3 linked regions of the Homo sapiens genome follow. The main gene of each other region encodes a partner of the protein of the gene in region 2 in a complex. Each region holds a gene or a part of one and is shown on either strand. Other genes may lie near its edges.

The links.
Region 1: the proteins of GDF5 (region 2) and RGMB are in contact, whole or in part, in a crystal structure (PDB 6Z3J), measured with the Homo sapiens proteins. Residues at the interface, in NP_000548.2 of Homo sapiens: Leu396, Arg399, Phe435, Pro436, Leu437, Arg438, Ser439, Asn445, Val448, Ile449, Leu452, Ser455, Met456; in NP_001353437.1 of Homo sapiens: Gln57, Thr60, Phe63, Val64, Thr67, Ser68, Leu70, Asn71, Tyr88, Leu103, Val104, Ser107, Ala108, Leu110, Gly111, Ile112, Asp114, Leu115, Gln118.
Region 3: the proteins of GDF5 (region 2) and BMPR1A are in contact, whole or in part, in a crystal structure (PDB 3QB4), measured with the Homo sapiens proteins. Residues at the interface, in NP_000548.2 of Homo sapiens: Arg399, Phe435, Pro436, Leu437, Ser439, His440, Glu442, Pro443, Asn445, Val448, Ile449, Leu452, Ser455, Met456, Pro458; in NP_001393490.1 of Homo sapiens: Gly65, His66, Cys67, Pro68, Ile77, Thr78, Phe83, Ile85, Glu87, Cys100, Met101, Lys102, Glu104, Gly105, Phe108, Gln109, Asp112, Ser113, Lys115, Ala116, Gln117, Arg120, Ile122.

Annotation. Positions count from the first base shown.
Region 1 is NC_000005.10:98,768,789-98,776,689, forward strand, and holds the start of RGMB (repulsive guidance molecule B isoform 1 precursor), read left to right. Parts: upstream 1-4,874; 5' UTR 4,875-5,164; coding exon of another isoform or gene 5,165-5,282; coding exon 5,283-5,418; exon of another isoform or gene 5,419-6,401; coding exon of another isoform or gene 6,402-6,414; intron 6,415-7,901. UniProt on the Homo sapiens protein: Member of the repulsive guidance molecule (RGM) family that contributes to the patterning of the developing nervous system. Acts as a bone morphogenetic protein (BMP) coreceptor that potentiates BMP signaling. Promotes neuronal adhesion.
Region 2 is NC_000020.11:35,435,163-35,442,793, forward strand, and holds the start of GDF5 (growth/differentiation factor 5 preproprotein), read right to left. Parts: upstream 3,067-7,631; 5' UTR 2,767-3,066; coding exon 2,136-2,766; intron 1-2,135. UniProt on the Homo sapiens protein: Growth factor involved in bone and cartilage formation. During cartilage development regulates differentiation of chondrogenic tissue through two pathways.
Region 3 is NC_000010.11:86,885,613-86,892,714, forward strand, and holds part of BMPR1A (bone morphogenetic protein receptor type-1A isoform 3 precursor), read left to right. Parts: intron 1-4,449; coding exon 4,450-4,612; intron 4,613-6,514; coding exon 6,515-6,617; intron 6,618-7,102. UniProt on the Homo sapiens protein: On ligand binding, forms a receptor complex consisting of two type II and two type I transmembrane serine/threonine kinases.

The sequences.
Region 1 (7,901 bases), on a different chromosome or scaffold from region 2:
GCGGACCATTCCCGCCACTGTACCCATTTTAGAAACACTTGGAAGACCCTTAAGGATCATTTACGGAGAGAAAGGTGTGCATTCTGCGGCTGCCGGCGGGCAGCTAGAGAACGTGGCGGGGGGCAGCGCATCTGGCGCCTTGGCCGGGGCGCGGAGTGGGAACAGCCCGCACGCGTCCGCTGCCGCCCTGCCTGGCGACGAGTGGCACAATCGCCCACCAGGAATCGGCTGGTGCCGCGGGTGGGCGAAGGCAGCGCCGCCGGCCCGGAGGGCGGCGCGGAGGGTGGCGCTGGCGGCGTGAAAGGCGTCTTTGTGCAAGATTGAGTGTGGTGGGGGGAAGGCGAAGAGAGAACTGATCCAGGACCTGGACGCGGGGGTCTGCGGCGCCCCTACGCCCCCACGCCCCCAGCCGTCCGCAGTGCCGGAATGAGCCGGATAGCGCCGGCAGGGGGCAGTGTGGCGATATAGGGGTTGCCGGGGGGAGAGGAGGGTCTCTGTTCACCTCTATTTGAGGCTGACTGGGGAGAAAGCTGCCTGGAGGAAGCTGCTGGGGTGCGGGGGGCTGAGGGATTTGGCTCCCCGCCCTCTCCCCTAGATGGCGGAGAAATCGGGCTAGCTGGAAGGGCGCAGCTCCTCTCCCAGAGCTCATTCTGGAGTCGGAGAACTGGGAGAGCGGCCCCCGAGGCGGAGCCTCCCTCCCGCCCCGAGTCGCGCTGCCCCCCACCTGGGGGAGAGGGGCGGGCGCCGCGCTGCCTTCCCTCCGCGCCTCGGCCGCGTGGCTTGCGGCTTATTTTCCCAGCTGGCAAGCGTCGCGCTGCAGACAAGGGAATGCCTGTGGTGAGTTGTTTATTTTGTTGAAGTTTGCGGTGGGCCCGGGGGACGTGGGGGGCGAGCGGCAGGCAGCGGCCGGGACTGTTTTGTTTAGGTCTCCATCCACCTGTGGGGTATAAATCTGCCAGCCTCAAGGCGGCGGGGGACCGGAGTGAGAAAGCTCTGACGCTCCCAAAAGCCCCTTTTCGCAACTTACAGATCTAGGACCACATTTGATTCTCCACGCCTGGAACCGGCTAGATCCTAGTTTACGCTCACCCCGCCCTCCAGCCTCCCATCAACGCTTCCCGCACCCGCTGTGTGCAGGGCTGGCGCTCCGCAGAGCAAACAGCGCCCACGACCCAGGGACAGCTGGCCACCGAAGTCCCTCCCCGGCGCCCTTCCCCGTTCCTTGAGGATAGGGGAGCTGAGGTTTTCATGTGAAGGGCGCCCATGAAATTCGTGGGAACTTGTTCTGGCGTCTTCTGGAGTGGAGTTCTTTCAGGGGTTTCGGGTCTGCCCGGGACTACAAAATGGGATCCTGGGTTGGCTGGAGTTTCCCAGACTAGGCTGGAGAGAGGTCGGCTGTTGGCTCGCGGGAGAGCCCAGAGGAACCCCTTGGGCGATGGCAGTCAAGACCGGCGGCTGCGTTTGCCTGGAAGAAAAGCCTAAATACATTAGCGAGCTGGTAAAGCTTTTAAGGCCTTCTTGGGAGCGAGTGGCTGGCTAATGAGAGGTTAATTTTGTTTCGAAGGGAAGGCTGCACTGGTTTCCTGAGATAAATGGACAGGAAGCGCATTACCTCCGCGCGCTGGCAAGCGGCTCCCAAATGCTTTTTGCACCTGCCGTTTTGAGCGGTGAGAGCAGCGGCGGAGCCCGCAGGGATTGCGGGGGCCCGTTGTCTACGAGCGGGTGATGAGCCCCCCGCAAGCCCCGGGCTCTCTCCCTCCGCGAGTGCATTGCTCACGCCAAGCTTTGGGACTCTTCTCTCACACCCAGGTCCTGCGTGTTCCGAAGTTCAGGGGCCCCCTGATCCCGCTGAGCCCCCTCCAGGAGCGAAAGGGTTAAGAATGATGTAAGTACAGGCACTTGATTTCTCAAGTCGCCCGCTTGGCCCTCTTCCAAGTTGTACTTTCCTTATTTTCTCTCCTTTCCTTTCCTTACTGTTCTAACGCTTTTTAATAAACTTTCACTCTTGCTCTGAAAAAAAAAATGATGTAAGTACAAACCACGAGCTGCTTGACGCTGAGCTGTTGGACTCCGGGCTATTTCAGCCGCTGCTTTGGGTACACAGTGGCCGGGGAGCAGCCGGGGAGCCCTTACTCTAGAAAGGATTGCACAAATCGCAAGCTTAGGTGATCTGTTAAGCAGTCAGAGATTCTCCTGTTAGATTTCTGGAAATGGAGACATATTAACTGGAGAACAGTTAAAAACATCACGTATAGGCTCAGGAAATGAAACTGCATCTTGTTTAGAATCCATTAGTGTTTCTGGCATGTGTTTTAATTCTGTCCACTTGCACGTTCATGCCGTAGTATGCTTTGCTGGATTCTCCGGATGTACTGTTCAGGTCTCCTCCTTCCTTTCTGAAAACAAAGAGAAAGGGAGAAAGAGTACCAGTGGCAAGAAACAGGGTGGATGTGTGAATTACACAAGTCATCAGCCACTTCATGATTTTTTTTCTGATTAAAACATAAAACTTTTATAAGTCACCGATTTTTTTGTTTGTGTTCTAGCTCCCTCCCCGATTTTTCTTTGTACAATATAAAGTCGTTTGTAACTTGCAGCTCACGGGCTTGAGGAGTGGCTGCGGTATAAGCGACTATTCACTACGCTCTTGCTTTCCAAGCCAATTCCTGATCTTGTGAACAGTACGAATTTACCCGCGAGTGTGTCAACTGACCTATGTCTTGAAAATAGGAACCACCTTGCGGTTTACTTGTGAAAATTAGCATTTTCCTCTAGCGGCTGAACACTTATGCAGCAATAAAAAGTGAATTGTTAGGCTTATAAATCTCGAGCTTGTCAAATTTTACAACAGAGGAGCAATAAAGCACCTTATAGAGATGAAGTTTTTCCTCTGAAGAACAGTTCCGTTTAACGACACCAGGATTTGCAATGACTCGAGGACGCCCTCTATTGATAGGAAAATCTAGAGCACCCGTGTACTTATGGAACAGGATATAGGGGGAGGGGAGTAAAAAATCATAGAAAGTCACGAGTGGAAAGACCCAAACCAAACAGAAATTATTGATCCTTAACTATTGAGTATATGCTTTGAAGTATGATCAATAAAGTGAGATGCTGCTTTTATAGGGGTCGAATTAAATCTTGGGTTAAGAGAAAAAAATGTAGTCTTTGTTAGCCAAATACTTTGAAAATCAGTATTATGTTTGATTACTTTTTTAAGATGCTTCTTAGTATGTCATGAACTGTATCTAATTATATGAAGTAATTGCAAGATAGTAAATTTTTGCTCTAATAATACTTAGTCCGCAGCATTATCTAAAAATGTCATATAACTTCCTCCCCAAAAGTCATTTCTCCAGGCAACTGTGAAGCTATTATTAAGCGTATTATGGATATACACAGGCTTGGATTATATTGTGGATAGTGAAAGGTGTGTTTACCCCTTAAGTCATCATAGTATGTAACAAGTAAGTAATGAAAAGTTACAGTAAAAACAGATAGGCATCCTTCATTAGGGACCTAGTGGTTTGGGCAATTCAAAATGTGTCTAATAAGTGAGCTGGTGAGACTGAAGGTTTGCCCCTCAATTATCCTAGTCCATTGATTAGCTCATTTAAACATGTGTGGAATATCAGCATGTCCGTGGTTGATAAGAAATTCCTAATTAGAGATTCTGAGTAACATAGCGGGTACAGTTGCCAACTACGATTTGGATGTTAGTGGATTTTAAATGGCAACCCTGTGCTGTTTGGGGAAAGGCAAAGGCGAGGGCGGTATCAAGTGTCTCTCAGCCTTGAGGTCATTCTTGAGATTAGATACCACTTCACACCTACCGATAACAAATTGGAATCTATCATCAGTCTCATAACTGCTTTTCTGTCTCCACTTGGCAGCCTCTTTCTTTGTAGACAATTGTCTTTTTCCTCACTTTCGGACCCATCCGATCATAAAAGGAGAAAGTGAGCTGCCATTGAATTAATCCGTAGAAATTTGTGGAAAATTTAAATAATCTGTAGAAATTTGTGAAAAAGCCACTGAGCAACAACAAATCGTGGCATAATTACACTGCATAAAAACCCACCACTCTCATTAATTACACTGTAACCGAACGTTGAAGTTTGCCCACTCTTAGACCTCTCCTTGCCGCTTTCAGGAAGGGAAATGTCAAACTAGAACACCTGAGCCTCGCACAGCTGCCAGCGAATTCCGGCGGCAGTTCGCGGGTACCTTCCCAGCCCATCCTATCTGCTCCGGACCGCGGGTGACATTCAGATTTCCAACACCGCCCCGAGCTTGCTTTACCAGACACCCTCAAACGACTCGGAACGCGGTTCCGCAGATGTGATTGGCTGAAAGGGGACCTGCCGCGCGGCGCTCTGTAAAAGCGCCTGCTTCCTCCAAGGAGGTGGAGCTGAAGCTGGCAGGGCCAGGGCAGGGAGGGGTAATTAAATTAAAAAAAAAACTTGGAGGGAAGATGAATCGGATCACATTAATTCAAGGAGAGGTCAAAGGCCGGTACCTTTGTAACGCCGGCGAGAGTAAGACTTGCGGTCGCCCATTTCTGTTGGGCGCGAGGAAACAGTAAATCGCGGAAGGGGGTAGAGGGGGAAGGAAAGGGAGCGCGAGGCAGCATGCGGCGCAGGAGAGAGGACTTGGAGTCGATGGACAGGGAACTCGAATTACACTGAGCGGGCGGGGGAGAGGGCCCTCTGGGTCCTGCGATTGGCAGGCTGAGTCGGGCTGACGTGCGGTCACAACCAATGGGGAGGAAGGGAGGGACACGGCGGGGGATTATGGCGTCGTGGATTGGCGGGCACAGGGCGGGGCGGGACGGCAGTGCGGGACTGAGATTGATCGACCGCGGGGGCTGCCGCGCAGAGATATCCGGGCCGCCGGTGGGTGGTCGCTAGGGCTGGGCCAGCCTCTTGGAGGTCCACGCCCGCCGAGCCCACGCTGGCTGGGGCCGGGGTGCCGGCGCGCTCGGGACTCGTCTCAGCAGTCGCTCACGGTCTTTGTGTCTTCTCTTCCGCCCCTTTCCCTGCCTGCCGCCTCCGGCCGCCACGATGCCCCTGCGCCCCGCTGCTGCCGCCGCGGACTGGCTGCGCCGGCTGCGCGCTGCTTGCTGCGGCGGTGGTGGCGCCCCATCTGCTACACGGGCCTGAAGAAGGAAGAAGAGGAAGCGAAGCGCGCCCCCCGGCCCATGCCGCAGCCACGGGCCCAGACCCGCCACGGCGCCCGCGCCGCCGCCCTCGCCGGAGCCCACGAGACCTGCATGGACGGGCATGGGCTTGAGAGCAGCACCTTCCAGCGCCGCCGCTGCCGCCGCCGAGGTTGAGCAGCGCCGCAGCCCCGGGCTCTGCCCCCCGCCGCTGGAGCTGCTGCTGCTGCTGCTGTTCAGCCTCGGGCTGCTCCACGCAGGTAGGACGGGAGCGCGCGAGGGGAGCCAGCCCCGGGGCCTAGGGCTTTGTTCCCAAATAGCCCCAGGTCTCGAAGGCGCTCGCCGGGGCGGAAGGGCGGCGTGGCGCAACGGGAAAGGCCTCCCGAGCCCCTGACACGCACCTCTGTCGGGCTCCGGGCCACAGTAACGCAGCCACCCACCGGGCGGCCGCCGGGCGCAGAGACGAGCCTTCTCTCCACCCTCCCCGCCTTCGGCTCGGACCGCTGACAAATCTCCCCTCCGACAGCCGCTTATCAAACATTTAGCGGGCGGGGGCCGCGCGCCCGAGACAAATGTTCCGGATGCTTTATTGCTCTCTGCGCTGGTGTTTACTGAAAGTCAGGCTCGGATCAGGTTTCCGCCGTCGCAGCCGCCTCGGAGGGAGACAAGGAGCCTTGTGCTGCTTTTCTGGAGTTGGGGGTGGCGGCGAGGCGAAGGAAGTACACCAGATGGAAAGATTTTTACCAGATTTTGCAAACCTGGGAGTTAATCTCGAAGTAACGTCAACTTTTTTGAGCAGGGATTTCTTTCGTTTTGGCAAAAGCTGCGTTTGTTCAGCGATCAGCCTCCCGGGAAAAGCTCGTGTTTTGTGACTAGCCGGGTGTCTTCGGGCTCCGTGAGGGGTTGACAGATAACCATGCTGCCTTCTGGAGGTCGGCGCTTCCCCAGCCTTGAGGCGTATGTTCCAAGGGAAGTAAGCCTGCAAATGAGCCTTCTACCATGTGATACCTATTTTTCTTTTTAAAAAATCGTTTCATGAAAATCCAGGACGCTCTTCACACTATTTTTTTCTAGGAATTTGCCTAGACAAAGAATTTTTTTTAATGCTAAGGTTGAAAGGGTCATTTTCCTTTAGTCTTGAGAACAAACAGCATTAGATAAGTTTCTTTTCCTTCCAGACCTTTTTTGTCCTGTATATATGAGACACTTCACAACGTTCTGGTCTGGAGAATCCTGAACTTCGATGCCACCCAACTGTGCGGAGTAATTTTTACTTATTAAACCATACCCGCCATGCTAAAAATCAGGGAGGTCTTTTAAGTAATGGGGGGGAAAATGTGACATCTGAGGAGACTTAATTTACTTTGCGTAGCTTTGCATTATGATGTAATAGCTGCTTTTTAACACCGACAATTAGGGAAAAGACGGCTTAATAAAAAAGTGTAATAGAAAGTTTTAGGATGATTACGGCTTTCAATTAGTAACCTAAGAACCTTAGAAAATAGTGTCAATCTGCATGTAGTTACGTGGAAAATTTTTCTTGACATGTTAAAAGATATATTCAGGAGTGTTTGTGCGAAAAATATGTGTCCATAATACCAAAATGTAAGTTTCATGAAATGGAAATTGTGCTAGGTGGGATTGTGTCCCCCTTGGCTGCTTGGATATTGTTTCCCATAGTTGCCATAGGATCCTGTGACAGAATTGGAATGTGGTCCCTGAAGGTTTCTTTGCTAGCCCGTGAAAGGCATACTAAGTTGGCTTAAAGGTTTAGAAAAGTAGGGTGTCTTCGTTCAAGAATTTGGAATGTGAAGCTCCCAGTATCTTCATGTGTCCTCATTTAAGTCACCATTAGATTCAGCCCAACAATGTGGTAAGCGATTTCTATGGACAACTTGTTGGAGTGAAGCGATTAATCCTGTTAAAGAAAAGAACGCTCCTTTTGAGAGATTTCTTTGAAGAGTGGTGCTATTTAAATGCCCGGGTTGTTTCTCAGATAAGGGAACCCAGCAAGAGTGCCAGTGCTCTTTGCAGATGGACTACTATATGTTTTATGCCTGGATCCTTATCATCTGCCTCAGCACCCCATATGGCTCCACATTTCACTTAATTCAGCTTCAGAATACCTCATTTCTTTTATTATAAACTGGTGATTGTGCTGCAGATTCACACGTGTAGTCCTGGTGTTAAAGAAACTGTCTTGAATGGTGAGGTCTTTATGTCTGATTCATTCAAAAATGATGAAATGAAAGCTCTAGACCCACAAATGCTTTAGCATGTTCAGTAACTGGTGTGAAAATACTGTCACACTGATCACAGATAATCTGACCCAAAAATAGAGAAATCTGTAGCTGCAGAGTTTTAATTCTGCCCTTGGGGAATGAAAAGAGTATGAAAAGAGTACCTTTAGTTGCTTTATTTTATTTTATTTTTTTTAAGCAAACCTCTGCAATTCCTGAATAGAGATCCAATATGGGAGTTACTTGCTTACTCATACACTTCATGGCCTTCTTGGCTACATCCTTGAGATTGTTTCTGCTCCGCATTGTCTTGGCATTTTGACAGGAGGCTTACTTTACCGCCTATAACAGGCAAAGTGTGCGTTGTCGTTATAAATTCATGAAGCCTGGATATTTCTGGGTGTATGCTACAAATTAGTCATTATATAGAAGCCCACAAGGCAGCTGAAAATGCTGACCCAATCGCACTTTCTATTTAGCCCTCTTCGCTCCCATCATCTCTG
Region 2 (7,631 bases):
CCTGTTGACTGGGCACAGTGGCTCACACCTGCAATCCCAGCACTTTGGGAGGCTGAGGTGGGTGGATTGCTTGAGCTCCGGAGTTCGAAACCAGCCTGCACAACATGGTGACACTCTGTCTCTACAAAAAATACAAAAATTAACCAGGCATGGTGGCGTGCACATGTAGTCCCAGCTACTCAGGAGGCTGAGGTGGGAGGATTGATTGACCCCAGGGAGGTCAAGGCTTCAGTGAGCCGTGAATTCGCTATTGCACTCCGGCCTGGGCAACAGAGAAAGACCCTGGCTAAAAAAAAAAAAAAAAAAAAAAAAAAAAAAAAAAAAAAAAAAAAAAAATACACGCTTTTCCAGAGGAGAATCCCAAGGTTCAGAGAAGTTAGATGACTTGCTCAAATTCTCAGCTGCTTCCACCATCCCTTAAAGGAGACCTTGGTGCTCTTGTTATGCAGATGAGGCACAGAGATGGGGAGTGACTTGACTAAGGTCACACAGCAAGTTAATGACAAAGCTGGTCCACACTGACCTACAGCCCAATTTTCCTGGCTTTCCAGTGCAAGGATTTTGTTGCCTATGTGTCTTACTCTCCTGAGCATGTGTGTGTGTTACAGTTGTATGCATGTGTGTGATTGGGTTCATATGTGAATATGAAAGAGTGTATACGTTAATGACGCATTATATGTATAAATGATTGGGCTTGTGTGACTATTTGAAGAGCACATATATGTCTGTATATGCATGATTGATCTTGTGTGTGTATGTAAGAAGGTGTGTGTGCACATGCATATGTGTGTGATTCGGCATGTGTGTACGTGTGTGATTCAGCACGTGTGTGTGTGAGTCAGCATGCATGTACATGTGTGATTCAGCATGTGTGTATAAACATAAGGCTATGTATGTGTATGTGAGAAGCTCAGTAGTATCTCCGAATCAGCATGCCCTCCTTCCTAAATTGCAATTTGCCATTGGGGAGCTTTCATATATTGCTCTAGAAGGTGACTAATTAGGCCTTTAAACTCCCCATCTCCCCCTCTCCAAGCTCCCTTAGTGCTGGGGGGCACACGGACTTATTTTATGAGCCCCCAAGGGGTCACAGCTTTCCCTGGCTGGGCAGGCAGCCAGACCACCTCCCCCACCTCAGCCAGACCTGCTGCCTCTGTGCCTCCCCCGCCCCCTGGCAGCCCCCTCCAGGCCAGCTCTAATGAGGAGCCTCTCCCACCCTCTGACCCCTCCCCCACCCTGCCAGCCTAGGACCAGAGCAAATGAGCTGCAGGCAACTTGAGCGACCAACAGCCCACCTCCCTCTTCACACTAGGAAGAAACTGAGGCCCTGAGAGGGGGAGGGACTTGCTTAGATCACACAGCAAGTGGAGAGGAAAAGCTGCAACAGTAACATTAGGTGGGCCGAGAGAGACAGAGGGGAGCAGGTAGTCTCTGGAGTTAATGAGGAGAATGAGGCATGTTCAGGACAGCATCTAAAGTTTTCATGTTGGAAGGGCTCTCAGAAACCACCCTGTCCAACCCCATATAGGTGTACAGATGGGAAAACGGAGACCCCAAGTGAGAAGGAGCTTTCCCAAGGTCATACTGCGAGTTAGGCCCTGGGTCTGCTCCCTCCCCATGTATCTGAACATCATTCCATGACTCCAAGATGCCCCATTTACTGTGTGCACCTCTCTTGCCTCCTCTATCCCCTTGCCTGAGGGCAAAGTTGCAGAAGCATGGGGACCTCAAGATTCATTTCTTTCTCTGCCGTCTGAGACCGCCTACAAACCTGTGAAGCTTGGAAAGTTCGGCCAGCCCAGCAGGTACAGATGCACAACTGAGCAATCAAGTCTCGGAATCTGGTCTCCAACTCTGCCACGAACTGGCAGGTCTTGTCTCTTCTCTAGGCTTTAGTGCCCACTCTGCACCTTGCAGGCGTTGGACCTGGTGCTTCCTAGGTGCCCTCCAGCCCTGATGTGTGGGCAGCCTAGGATCTGCTATGTGTGAGATATGTGTCAGTGTCCCCAGACACCCACCCCGGGCCAGATGCACACAGTGTCTCCCACCAGGGCAGTGCCAGGGCTTTGAAAGCCCCTCCATTCATGCAGATGCCCCTCCCTCTGAGCCGTGCCCCTGCCACCCCGCCCCCTCACCTTGCCCTTTGTCAATAAAGCTGGTGATGGTGTTGGCCAGGCCAGCCTCCAACTTCACGCTGCTGTTGCCTCCCTTTCTGTCAGCATCGGACAGCGTCCTGTACAGCGAGAGCATGTACTCGTGGGGTGTGATGGGGGGTGGGCGAAACGGCTCCTTGGGCTCTCGTGGGGGCCCGGGCTCCCTGGCCTTCTTCAGCAGGAAGGAGCTGGGGACAGATCCTGCTTTTGGGGGTGCCTTGCCTCCGGGAAGCTGTCCTTTTGGGGTCACAGTCCGGGCTGTAGCCTGCCTTGTTTGGGGAGGGTGTCCTGGCTTGGGTTCAGGGCCGCCCGGTCTGGGGGGCAGCTTTTTGGGTTCATCCTTCTTGGGCTGTGTCAGGCCTCCTGTCTGCCCGGTGCCTCCCTTTGCCCTGGCATTGGCATTGGTGGCCCCCCCACCATAGCTGTGACCCCCTGGCCTGAAGACGTTCCGGGCCAGGGGGGGCCTCTCCTTGGCCTCTGCTTTGGCCAATCCTGGCCTGGTCCCCTGGGGTCTCTGGCCCAAGTCAGGGGCACCCAACACAGTGCAGATGAATTCCAGGTCCAGCCAAGCCAGGTACCAAAGCAAGAAAGTGAGGAGTTTGGGGAGTCTCATCCTCTGGCCAGCCGCTGAATGACACCAAAGAGAACAGCGGCAGCAGCGAAGGTGCCTCTGGTTTGGCAGGAAAAACCATGAAAGGAGTGGACTTTCAAAAGCAGCGGCAGCAGCAGTAGCAGCAGAAGGAAAGGCTTTCTCCTCAGTCTGAGACTCTTGAAGTCTGCCGGGTGTGTGTTTGTATCCAGTCCCATAGTGGAAATGCTCTCGTATCCAGACGTGCACCGTCTCCAGTCAGCAGCTGAAAATAACTCGTTCTTGAAAGGAGAAAGCCGACCGCCCCCTTTCTCCTGCACAACTGACTGAGGGCTTGAAGGAGGCTTGTATAAGGCTGAGGGATTTTTCCAAGAAGGAAGAATGGCGTAATGCTGCCTGTGTGCTCCAGTTTTTTTTTCCCCCTAGTTTTGAATCCTTTCCAGTGAAAATACTTCACACACACACACACACACACACACACACACACTCACAGGCCTGCAGGTGCTCAGAAAAATCTTTTACAAACCTGAACTCAGGAATTGGAAACGGAATTCCAACCCAAACCAATTTAATTACTCTCTGATGTCATGCTGTCTAAACTCATTTAAGTGCGATATATTTATGTGAAAAAAATCACCGCTGCCCTTTCGAGGCCATGGCTCACGGGGGCTCCTGGCACAGAGCCCTGCAGCGGGACTCTAGGCTTAGGGGGCCTCCCCCTCCACAGGGCAGACTCAGGGGTCTTCACCTCCACCTCATGGAGCAGCCCACCCCACTTTCCCGAGGAGAGATGCTGAAGAATGAGCTCAAAGATCTTAAGCCCCAGAAGCATGGGGAGTGTGGGTTTGTAGTTAAGTTCTTAGAGTGTTTTTAAAGCAGTTTCAACTCCTGCATCTAGTCTGGGACCTGATTTGTTATGCGTGTGTGTGTGTGTGTGTGTGTGTGTGTGTGTGTGTTTATGTGCCTGTGTGTGTGTGTGCCTGTGTGTGTGTGTGCCTGTGTGTGTGTATTGGGAGTAGGGACAGCACAGATGGCAGCATTTACCCACATTTTCTTTTATTTTAATAAACTTGTGGTGACCCAGAGACTGAAAAATATCAGTGCCCACTACACCCCCTCCCTACCCCCAAATGCCATTGACTGAGTGCATATTCTTCAGGCTTGGGGGCACTGTCGCCCTTAAGTTCACTCCTTGGATGGCGGCAGGTCCAGGGTGTACCCCACCACCACCCCAGCAGAGACGTCCTCTGAGTTTTCTTAGACAAGACTGGCTGAGTCTGGGGCAGCAGCGGCCCCTACAGGAGGCTGGAAAAGCCATTTCCCACATGACGCTTTTTTTTTTTTTTTTTTTGAGACGGAGTCTCGCTCTGTCGAGTGCAGTGGCATGATCTCAGCTCACTGCAATCTCTGCCTCCCAGGTTCACGCCATTCCCCTGCCTCAGCCTCCCCAGTAGCTGGGACTACAGGCCCCTGCCACCACACCTGGCTGATTTTTTACGTTTGTAGTAGAGATGGGGTTTCACCATGTTAGCCAGGATGGTCTCGATCTCCTGACCTCGTGATCCGCCCGCCTCGGCCTCCCAAAGTGCTGGGATTACAGGCGTGAGCCACCGCGCCGGGCACAATTTCCCACATGATGTTTTTCTGGTAGCTCTGGAAGGTCTGAATTCCAGCTGAACTCAAGGGTTTCTTAAAGTGCCTCATTGAAGTATGGAAGATCCCTTCCTCTGGGGAACCTTCGCCGTAGAGCCCCTGGGCAACTTAACACAGGGTCAGCGGGGAAAGCTGTTCGCTTCACCTGAAATATCCTCCTCTCTCTCTCCCACAACTGGAGGAAGCACTCTACATCCTGAGAAGTTTAGCTGAAAATTTACCTCCTTCGGGAAGCCTTTCCTCGTCCCCAGACAGAGCCAGTTACCCCTTCTGTACATTTCTCTACAACAACACTTTTCACGCTGTAAGAAGGATGGCGGGGGAGAAGCAATAGTCAGATAGGCTTCCTTCTTTTTTTTTTTTTTTTTTTTTTTTTTGAGACAGAGTCTCACTCTGTCACCTAGGCTGGAGTGCAGTGGTGCGATCTTGGCTCACTGTAATCTCCACCTCCTGGGTTCAAACGATTCTCCTGCCTCAGCCTCTCGAGTAGCTGGGACTACAGGTGCACACCACCATGCCTATCTATTTTTTGTATTTTTAGTAGAGACGGAGTTTCACCATGTTGGCCAGTCTGGTCTCGAGCTCCTGACCTCAAGTGATCCACCCACCTTGGCCTCTCAAAGTGCTGGGATTGCAGGCATCTCTACCAAAAATACAAAAAATTAGCCGGGTGTGGAGGCAAAGGTTGCAGTGAGCCGAGATCGCACCACTGCACTCCAGCCTAGGTGACAGAGCTAGAGTCCATCACACACACACAAAATAAGTAAATAAATAATATTAATAAAATAAAAAAATTAAAAACAGACTTGTTCCCACTGAACCAGTCCTCTCTGGCATCCCTCCCTTCACTCCCTCCTCACCACCTCTGTCACTGCCCTGTCCTCCTCATTGCTTGCCTCGCTATGATTCTCCCCTATAACTGGCTTCTAGGCCTCCAGGCTCTCTCTGGTTCAACCCTCTACTAAAAGCTACCCATCAAACAAGTGCCAACCCACGTGCCACCTCCTCCATGAAGCCTTCTTGCATCCTCCAGAAAATGCACACTCCCCCTGAGCTGCCATCACACATTTTCTGTGCTCTTTTACATTTTTTGGCAGCTGAAAGTTTATTCAGTCTCTGCCTCTGCCCCCTATCCCAACACAGTTTGTTTCTTCCACTCTGTATTTTGTCATATTTTAAAATCATAACTTAATTCCTTATAACTATAATAATTTCTTTACATACCTGTCTCTCCCATTAGATTATGACTAGACTGTGCCATATTTATCTTTGAATTATACCCAGTGCTTGGCAGAGGGCCCAGCCCACAGCAGCTCTCAGTACGTGTTATATGAATAAATTAATCTCTAACTGGCCCTTATTGACAAAAATCATCATTTTCTACTTTGAGGTGTAGTTATTTGTGGACATAACCTGCCTTTCCCATTAGACTCTAAGTTTCTTGAAGGGAAGAATTGTCTTGCCACTTCTTAAGCATTTTGTAAGCTCAGAGAGTGAATAAATGAATGAGTTGAACAACCACAATGTCTCTGTACGTGGCTTGATAAAGAGCAAGGATTCTGGAGACAAACAGACCTGGTTTTGAAGCTTGGTTCTGCTATTTATGTATTGTGTGATCTTGGGAAGCCTCTAAACCCCTCTGAAACTCTAAACAGTGATAACGATAGTGCTTACCTCACAGGACTCTTGTTGGAGATTCAATGAAGTAAATTGCGGCCAGGCGCAGTGGCTCACGCCTGTAATCCCAGCACTTTGGGAGGCCGAGGCAGGTGGATCACGAGGTCAGGAGATCAAGACCATCCTGGCTAACATGGTGAAACCCTGTCTCTACTAAAAAAATAAATAAAATTAAATTGCATAAAGTGATCAACTATTAATGGCAATTGTTAATGATAGCTTTTTTTTTTTTTTTTTTTAGATGGAGTCTCACTCTGTCACCCAGGCTGGAGTACAGTGGCATGATCTTGGCTCACTGCAACCTCCACCCCCCGGGTTCAAGTGATTCTCCTGCCTCAGCCTCCCAAGTAGCTGGGACTACAGGTGCGTGCCACCACGCCCGGCTAATTTTTGTATTTTTAGTAGAGATGGGGTTTCACTGTGGTAGCCAGGATGGTCTCGATCTCCTGACCTTGTGATCTGCCTGCCTCGGCCTCCCAAAGTCCTGGGATTACAGGTGTAAGCCACCATACCCGGCCAATAATAGCTATTTTTTTTAAAGCACTTATTCCAGTCAACTAGACTCTGGGTTTTGTACTCCATTGCATTTATGTGTTATTTATCTTCATGACAATGCTATGAAGGTAGTGGTTTTCATTGTTGTTTTTTGAGACAGGGTCTTACCTGTTGCCCAGGTTGGAGTGCAATGGCGTGATCATGGGGCTCAGGTGATCCTCCCACCTCAGCCTCCCAAGTAGCTAGGACTACAGGTGCACATCACGATGCCCAGCTAATTTTTGTATTCTTTGTAGAGACAGGGTCTCACCATGTTGCCCAGGCTGGTCTCAAATTTCTGGGCTCAAGTGATCTGCCCGCCTTGGCTTCCCAAAGTGCTGAGATTACAGGTGTGAATCACCACATGTGGCCGAAAGTAACTTTTTTTATTTTTTTGAGATGGAGCCTCGCTCTCTCACCCAGTCTGGAGTGCAGTGGCGCAATCTCAGCTCACTGCAACCCCCGCCTCCTGGGTTCAAGGGGTTTTCCTGCTTCAGCCTCCTGAGTAGCTGGGATTACAGATGTGTACCACCACGCCCAGCTAATTTTTGTATTTTTAGTAGAGATGGGGTTTCACCATGTTGGCCAGGCTGGTCCCAACTCCTGACCTCAGGTGATCCACAAAAAAGCATTTTGTAAGCTCAGAGAGTGAATAAATGAACGAGTTGAACAACCACAATGTCTCTGTATGTGGCTTGGCCTCCCCTAGTGCTGGGATTACAGGCATCAGCCGCCGTGCCCAGCCCGAAGGTAACTCTTGATACCCGTCTTTTTTTTTTTTTTTTTTTGAGACAGAGTCTTGCTCTGTCACTTAGGCTAGAGTGAAGAGTGCAGTGGCTCAATCTCAGCTCATTACAACCTCTGCCTCCCAGTTTAAGTGATTCTCCTGCCTCAGCCTCCCAAGTAGCTGGGACTACCGATGCGCACCAAGACGCCCGGCTAATTTTTTGTATTTTTGTGGAGACGGGGGTTTCACCATGTTGGCCAGGCTGGTCTCGAACTCCTGACCTCAAGTGATCTGCCCA
Region 3 (7,102 bases), on a different chromosome or scaffold from region 2:
GTTCTTGCTTCCTTGTACTTGACTTTCCTTCTGCTGATGTCTTCCTGGTTTCTATTTAATTAATGATGCAGACTGTTGTTGCAGAATTCATTAGGCTACCATTGCTGATTATCTCATATGTATAGTGCATCAGTAGCCCATTGGTCTCACCAACCGTTTGCCATCTGAGTTCTGTTGTAGACATTCTATCTTAAGGTTGCGGCAGAGGGCATTTATTTGCTGTAGAAAAAGGAAGCCAATAAATTATTGGGAAAATATGAAAAATTACTTAGCCAGGAATAAAAATCTAGTAAAATCATTGATGCCAAAAATTGCTGTTGATGACAAGGACCTGTAAATGTGCCTGTGTATGGTCATGTGTCTCTTGTAACTGTTTGTCTCTTTGTATGTATATGTTTTCATTTTTTCCTGAGATGTTATACTTAAACATGTAAGCTATTAAATATTTTGTGTGTGTTTGTTTTGAAATATAACCTATACCCCCAGTCCACCCCAGGGCTCGTAGTTTATTCTTTGTAAATACACGGGACTTGTGGGTGGCGAGAGATTGACATGTTCAGAACTGACAGAAGGCCATGTGCCAAGTAAAGTGATGATGGTGAGGCCTGCAGGACCCAGATCCTGTTGGGCCCTGGGAGCACACAGTGGAGGTTGGATTTTATTCTGAGTGCATTGTGGAGCCATTGATTGGTTTTATATAGGAGTGACAGATTTGTGTTTATAAAATGTCTCTGGCTGCTCTGTGGAAAATGGATTGCAGGGACCAAGAGCAGAAGCAGAGGGAACAGTTGGAGACTTCTTACCTTAGTAGAGGCATGATGTGATGGGCCTTGGTGACAACAGCGGAGTTGGAGAAAAATGAAAACAATTGACATACATTTTGGAGGTTGAGCCAAAAGACTTTGGTAAGACCAGGTTTGAGGCAAATCAAGAGTTCATTTAAGACAAGTCAGTCAGGAGATGTCTAAGCAGGTCATGGCTAGAGGGGGTACATCCAGGAACCATCAACAGAGTGGGCGCTGTCCCCTAGGGAGAGCACAGAGAGGCTCTTTCCTGTTACTTTTCTTTGTATTCAATATCTGCTTGGTGAAATCTTGCAAGTTTTTAAGATGTAGCTTAGATTTCATTACTTTTGACACCTAAGATCAGTTTGAGTTTGACACCTAGGATGAGCCTTTTCCTTTGTTTACATGTAAACACCTCCGTATTTTGTCACTTTTTTTTTTTTTTTTTTTTGAGATGGATTTTCGCTCTTGTCGCCCAGGCTGAAGTGCAATGGCTTGATCTCTGTTCACTGCAACCTCCACCTCCCAGGTCAAGTGATTGTCCTGCCTCAGCCACCTGAATACTGGGATTACAGGCGCCTTGCCACCACGCCCAGCTAATTTTTTAATATTTTTAGTAGAGACGGGGTTTCACCATGTTGACCAGGCTGGTCTTGAACTCCTGACCTCAGGTGATGTGCCCACTTTGGCCTCCCAAAGTGCTGGGATTACAGGCGTGAGCCACCGCGCCTGGCCTTTGTATTTTGTCACTTTTCACATTGTATTTATTTGCTTTTGTGCTTATTCCCCCTCTGCTTTCCACCAAGTTTCTCAAGGCCACATATGTGGTTTTGATGCCACATCTTTGCGTTTCTAGCATTTAATACCTTGCCTGCACATAATAGACCCCTACTAAGTATTCTGTTGAATATTTGGCAATAACATAAGCTCCAGATACAACTACTGTAATTGAGTTTTTTGTCTCATGAATTCAAATAGTATTCTAGGAAGTTTCATATAACTTTGAGTTTTTTCATGTATCAGTGATCTTTTAGTGTTCTGATCTTTGTTATTAGTAACATCTTCATTTGTATACTATTTTACATGTAGTTAAGCACTTTAGTAAATATTCATTTGATCTACCTATAACCTCTTGATTTGAATTAGGCAGGAATTATTATCCCCATTTTCTATAGATAGCTGAGGTTCAGAGAGTAACTTATCTGTGCCCGTAACTGCGACTTGAACCCTTCACTTCTTGCTGTTATCTCAAGTGATATTTCTGCCACACTAAACTGCTTTTTCTGTGTCACTAGATTTTTGAAAAATCAGTTGCTGTGATATATTATATACTGTTTGTTTTCCAGAGCTGAATTGATACGTGTCTTCTGTTAATGTAATAGGATTTTAAAGCTGGTCAGGTTCCCTCACCTGTCCTCTAGTCCTGTAGCCTTATAGAGTAAATGAAGCCTGGAAAGGTGACATGGCTTGCCCAAGACCATCCAGCTAGGTAAAGCGGGGTAGGCCCATGGCAAAACAGAATCCCAGTCTCCTCATTTCCTGCTCAGTGGATTTCTTCCCTTCCTGTACCTCCTGCTTCCCCCACCCCATCTTTTACAGTTGATGTTTCTAACATAAAGGAGGTCTTTCCGCTTTGTAGCAATCAGATCCAACGGAAGCCTTGACATTATATTACGGAATTTATTTCTGAAAGGAGAGTGGTGTGGGGGGCGCGGGGATGAGTAATATATGTATGTACACAAACTTCCAGCTTTTTTTTTTTTTTTTTAAGTGTTTTCTCTCCTGGCCGGGCACGGTGGCTCATGCCTGTAATCCCAGCACTTTGGGAGACTGAGGCAAGTGGATCACTTGAGGTCAGGAGTTTGAGACCAGCCTGGCCAACATGGTGAAACCCTGTCTCTACCAACAAAATACAAAAAAATTAGCTAGGCGTTGTGTGGGGTGCCTGTAATCCCAGCTACTCGGGAGTCTGAGGCAGGAGAATTGCTTGAACCTGGGAGGCGGAGGTTGCAGTGAGTCGAGATTGCACCAGTGCACTCCAGCTTGGGTGACAGAGTGAGACTCTATCTCAAATAAAAATGTTCTCTATACTCATTCAGTAGCAAATTCTTTTACTAAATATTCGGTATAAGAAAGTGAAGGTTATTGGCCAGGCATAGTGGCTCACGGCTATATTCCCAGCACTTCGGGAGGCTGAGGCGGGAGGATCGCTTGAGCCCAGGAGTTCAAGACCAACCTGAGCAGTATAGGGAGACCTTGTCCCTACAAAGAATTTAAAAATTAGCCGGGCATGGTGGCATGTGCCCTTGGTCCCAGCTACTCCAGAGGCTGAGGTGGGAGGATCACTTGAGCCTGGGAGGTTGAGGCTGCAGTGAGCTCTGATCACATCACTGTACTCCAGCCTGGGCAATAGCGTGAGACCATGTCTCAAAAAAAAAAAAAAAAAAAGTGAAAATTATTGAAACTGAAGGCATGTAATCATCAAAACACTATTTAGCAGCACTTTTTCTGTTACCTGTGTGTGCATATGTGATATTTTTTGTCTTTTCAGTAGTTTATCTCATCAGTATGGTAAATGTAAAATCAAGTCTGTGTTGTGTCTTGAACCACTTATTTAACATTCATAATGAAATACATATACACTTGTCTGTTTGGTTCCACCTTTCATTCCCTTGAGAGTAACCCACAAAGAATGGCCTAGCTGAGTCAGAGAGAGGAAGTAATTACTAGAACAGTTTTTTTAGTTCCGTTCTGCTTCCAGCCTGAAAGATTTAGTACCAAATATGACAGTATCTGTCACTGCAGGCTGCTAGACTCTAGTGTAAGAACATAGTTCTATTTCTGTGAGCTAACTGCTGCCCTTCTATAACCTTCAGTTTCTGCCAGCATCGTCTGCATTCAAACCAATGACCTCGAGGTGAAAATCTCCAGATAACATGATTGGTCCCCATGCTCTCATGATTTCCTTACTTAAGCAATTAAAGGCCAAAGCAAGATGCTTAGTAACTCCTTTTCCACATAGAGGCACAAATAAAGGAAAGCTGGTCACAAGTTTTGAACCAAAGAGTTAAAAGAAGAATCATAACTTGTCTCTATTTAATGATTGGAAACTCTCACAGACTTCTGTGAAGTCTCTCCCCCTTTTGTACCTTTCTTACAAGTGATGACTATATACTTTTACCTGGCAGGGGAGAGACCACGGTCACGAAGGTGGTTTTCCCAGGGCGAGGCTTATTCATTGCACTCCAGATGTGCTGACCCCTGCGATTTCCCCAAATGTGGGAAACTCAACTGCATAATTGTGGTGGTGGGGGACTGCGTTCATGCTTTTCCCTGGTTAAATTAAAAAATTTTTAAGTTATTTTAAAAATATAAAAAACAAGATTTGACTGTATTCTGCCTTGCGCCACTCTTGTTTGTCTTTCACTAGTGCAAAAATTGTGATATAGCTGTCTTCATGTACCCCGCAATACCTGGTGCAGTAATTCTGTGCATAATAATGTATGTCTGTTTGTTGTATGAATGAAATTTATATTTCTAAAGAAACATGCTAGCTACAATTATTGTGATAAGAAAGCTTAACAACTTTTTCTCATTGAAAATTGTCACGAAACAATGAGCTTTTCAGAAATGATTTACTTACAAATTCCATATTTGAATGCAGGACAGAATCTGGATAGTATGCTTCATGGCACTGGGATGAAATCAGACTCCGACCAGAAAAAGTCAGAAAATGGAGTAACCTTAGCACCAGAGGATACCTTGCCTTTTTTAAAGTGCTATTGCTCAGGGCACTGTCCAGATGATGCTATTAATAACACATGCATGTAAGTATTTTATGCAGCCCTTCTTAAGAGTTAGGAGAATAGAGTTGCATTTAGTGCTATTTTAAGAATTATTAAACTTGTCTGCGGTTTTTTTTTCATTCATATATAGTATCTTTCCAGAAAGCCAAAAAGCCTTTTGTTTTGTATATTAGAACATTATTCCATTAAATGATTGATAGGTGAGTTACTATATTAGAATTATGTTATAATGCAGCTTTTAAAATAAGATCAAAGGGATCTAGTATTTAACATCTGAGTTTTTAATGATCTTTTAATCTTAAATTTATTGATGCTCATTTTAGAAAACTTAGAGGTTACCAAAAAAGAAATCAGAAAACTCACTGACAACCTCCTACTTCTTTTTAATTTAAAAAAAAATTTTTTTTTTAACTATAGACAGGATCTTGCTATGTTGCCCAGGCTGGTCTCAAACTCCTGGGCTCAAGCAGTCCTTCCACCTCAGCCTCCCAAAGTGCTGGGATTACTAGGGTGAGCTGCCACACCTGGCCTCCTACTTCTTAATTAGTTGAAATATTTTGCAGATATATATAAATCATATTGTGTTAATTAATTTTATGCTTTTTTCTTACCTGTGAATTTACCAATCCAAATCTGATTTATAAAATGATTTTAATTTTTCTAGTGTATTTCGTGTTAGCTGCACAACATGTTTATATATGATCATGTAATTCTAGTCCATATTTGTTGGAAACATTGACATATTGACTTAATAAGACCAAAAAAAATTGCCTGAACAACTCAACCTCATCAGTCAATTAATTGTCTCCTTGTTATAGAGGCAATAATGAATGTCATGTTTTATACTTTTAATAATTGTATGTTCCCTGAATGGACCAGATAGAAAGCATGAAACTTTACACGTAAACTCTTGAACCTGCATGACGGTCATCGTGTCTTAGGTTTGCTGCTTGTCCCCTGGTGGTGGTGGGCTCTGCGTGGCTGACTGTGACTAGTTGTTCATTTTTACCTTGGTGAGAGTTTGCCAGCAGGGAACTGCTCTCTGCTATGTCACCAAATAATGTTTTGCTAAACTTCTTGTCTGTAGTACCTGCCTGATGTAATGGGCTGTCTGTTAGTAGCTTAGTAACCCAGAGTAAAACTGAATCATCCATTTTAACAGAATTCTGCCCCACACTTAACATTTTCTCCTAACAGAAAACCAAGAATTCTGCAAAATTCTTCTAAGTAGAAGCAGCACAATTCCTGATATTAACAATAAATAGGAGTACAGAAAAAGCTTTTAGAAATTTCTCCCATACCTGTTAAAGTCTATATGAATATATTAAGGGGAAACTCCAGGATGCTAACACTAAAATAAGAATTTCATTATATATGTATGTAAATTTATTGAAAATTTATTCAAAAGTCCTCTCCCTGTTTTCCCATCATATTCAGTAAAAGGTGCCTTTTAGTCCCCTTTTTTTTGGTCATTAAGCCTATTTGTATGTTTCAGAGAAAAGTTTGTTTTTATCTATTATCATATACAATATGGAAGTACTGAAAAAATGGGTAAAAAGAGACAAAGTTATTTTAAAGTATGTTTTCAAAACATGACATAAAATTTTATAAATCAGCTTTCTGTGATCACATGACTGATTAGCAAAGAGAAGTCACATAACTCCTATGTGGAGGACTTGTTTAATTGAAATCCTTTTCTTCTTGACAAAGGGTTGTCACTGGCCTTTTAGATCTTGGCTCAGACATAACTTTCATTTGTCTTAAAACCTCTGGCGTTGCCAATAAATCACGTGTGAATGCAATTCTAAGTCACAAAACAAAGTATTAAAGGCCATCTGTACCTGTTCACATTCAGACTCAAATTTCGTTAGTACTTTCTATGTGAATTTATGTTTTGTTTTGTTTTGTTTTTTTCTGTTTTAGAACTAATGGACATTGCTTTGCCATCATAGAAGAAGATGACCAGGGAGAAACCACATTAGCTTCAGGGTGTATGAAATATGAAGGATCTGATTTTCAGTGCAAAGTAAGATATAATTTGGGACCCATGAGACAAAGAAGGGAGGGGCCATATGAAAGCATCGATTTCCCCCAGGAGAAACATGCCTGGTGTACACATCGCTGTATGTTCACATCAGTAAATATATTGGAGGAATACCTACTGTCTAGATTCTGTCCTGTATTCATATGTAGAATTTATAACTAAATCATTTCTGAAAAGCTAATTGTTTGATTACAATTTCCTTTTTTATTTCCATAGACAGCACCTGGCTCTGTTGCCCAGGCTGGAGTGCAGTGCTGCGATCTCCGCTCACTGCAACCTCAAGCCAGCCTCCTGCCTCAGCCTTCTGAATAGCTGAGACTACAGGTGCATGCCACTATACCTGGCTAATTTTTGTATTTTTTGTAGAGACAAGGTTTTACCATGTTGCCCAGGCTGGTCTCAAACTCCTGGGCTCAAGCAGTCTGCCCGCATCGGCCCGCAAAGTGCTGGGATTACAGGTGTGAGCC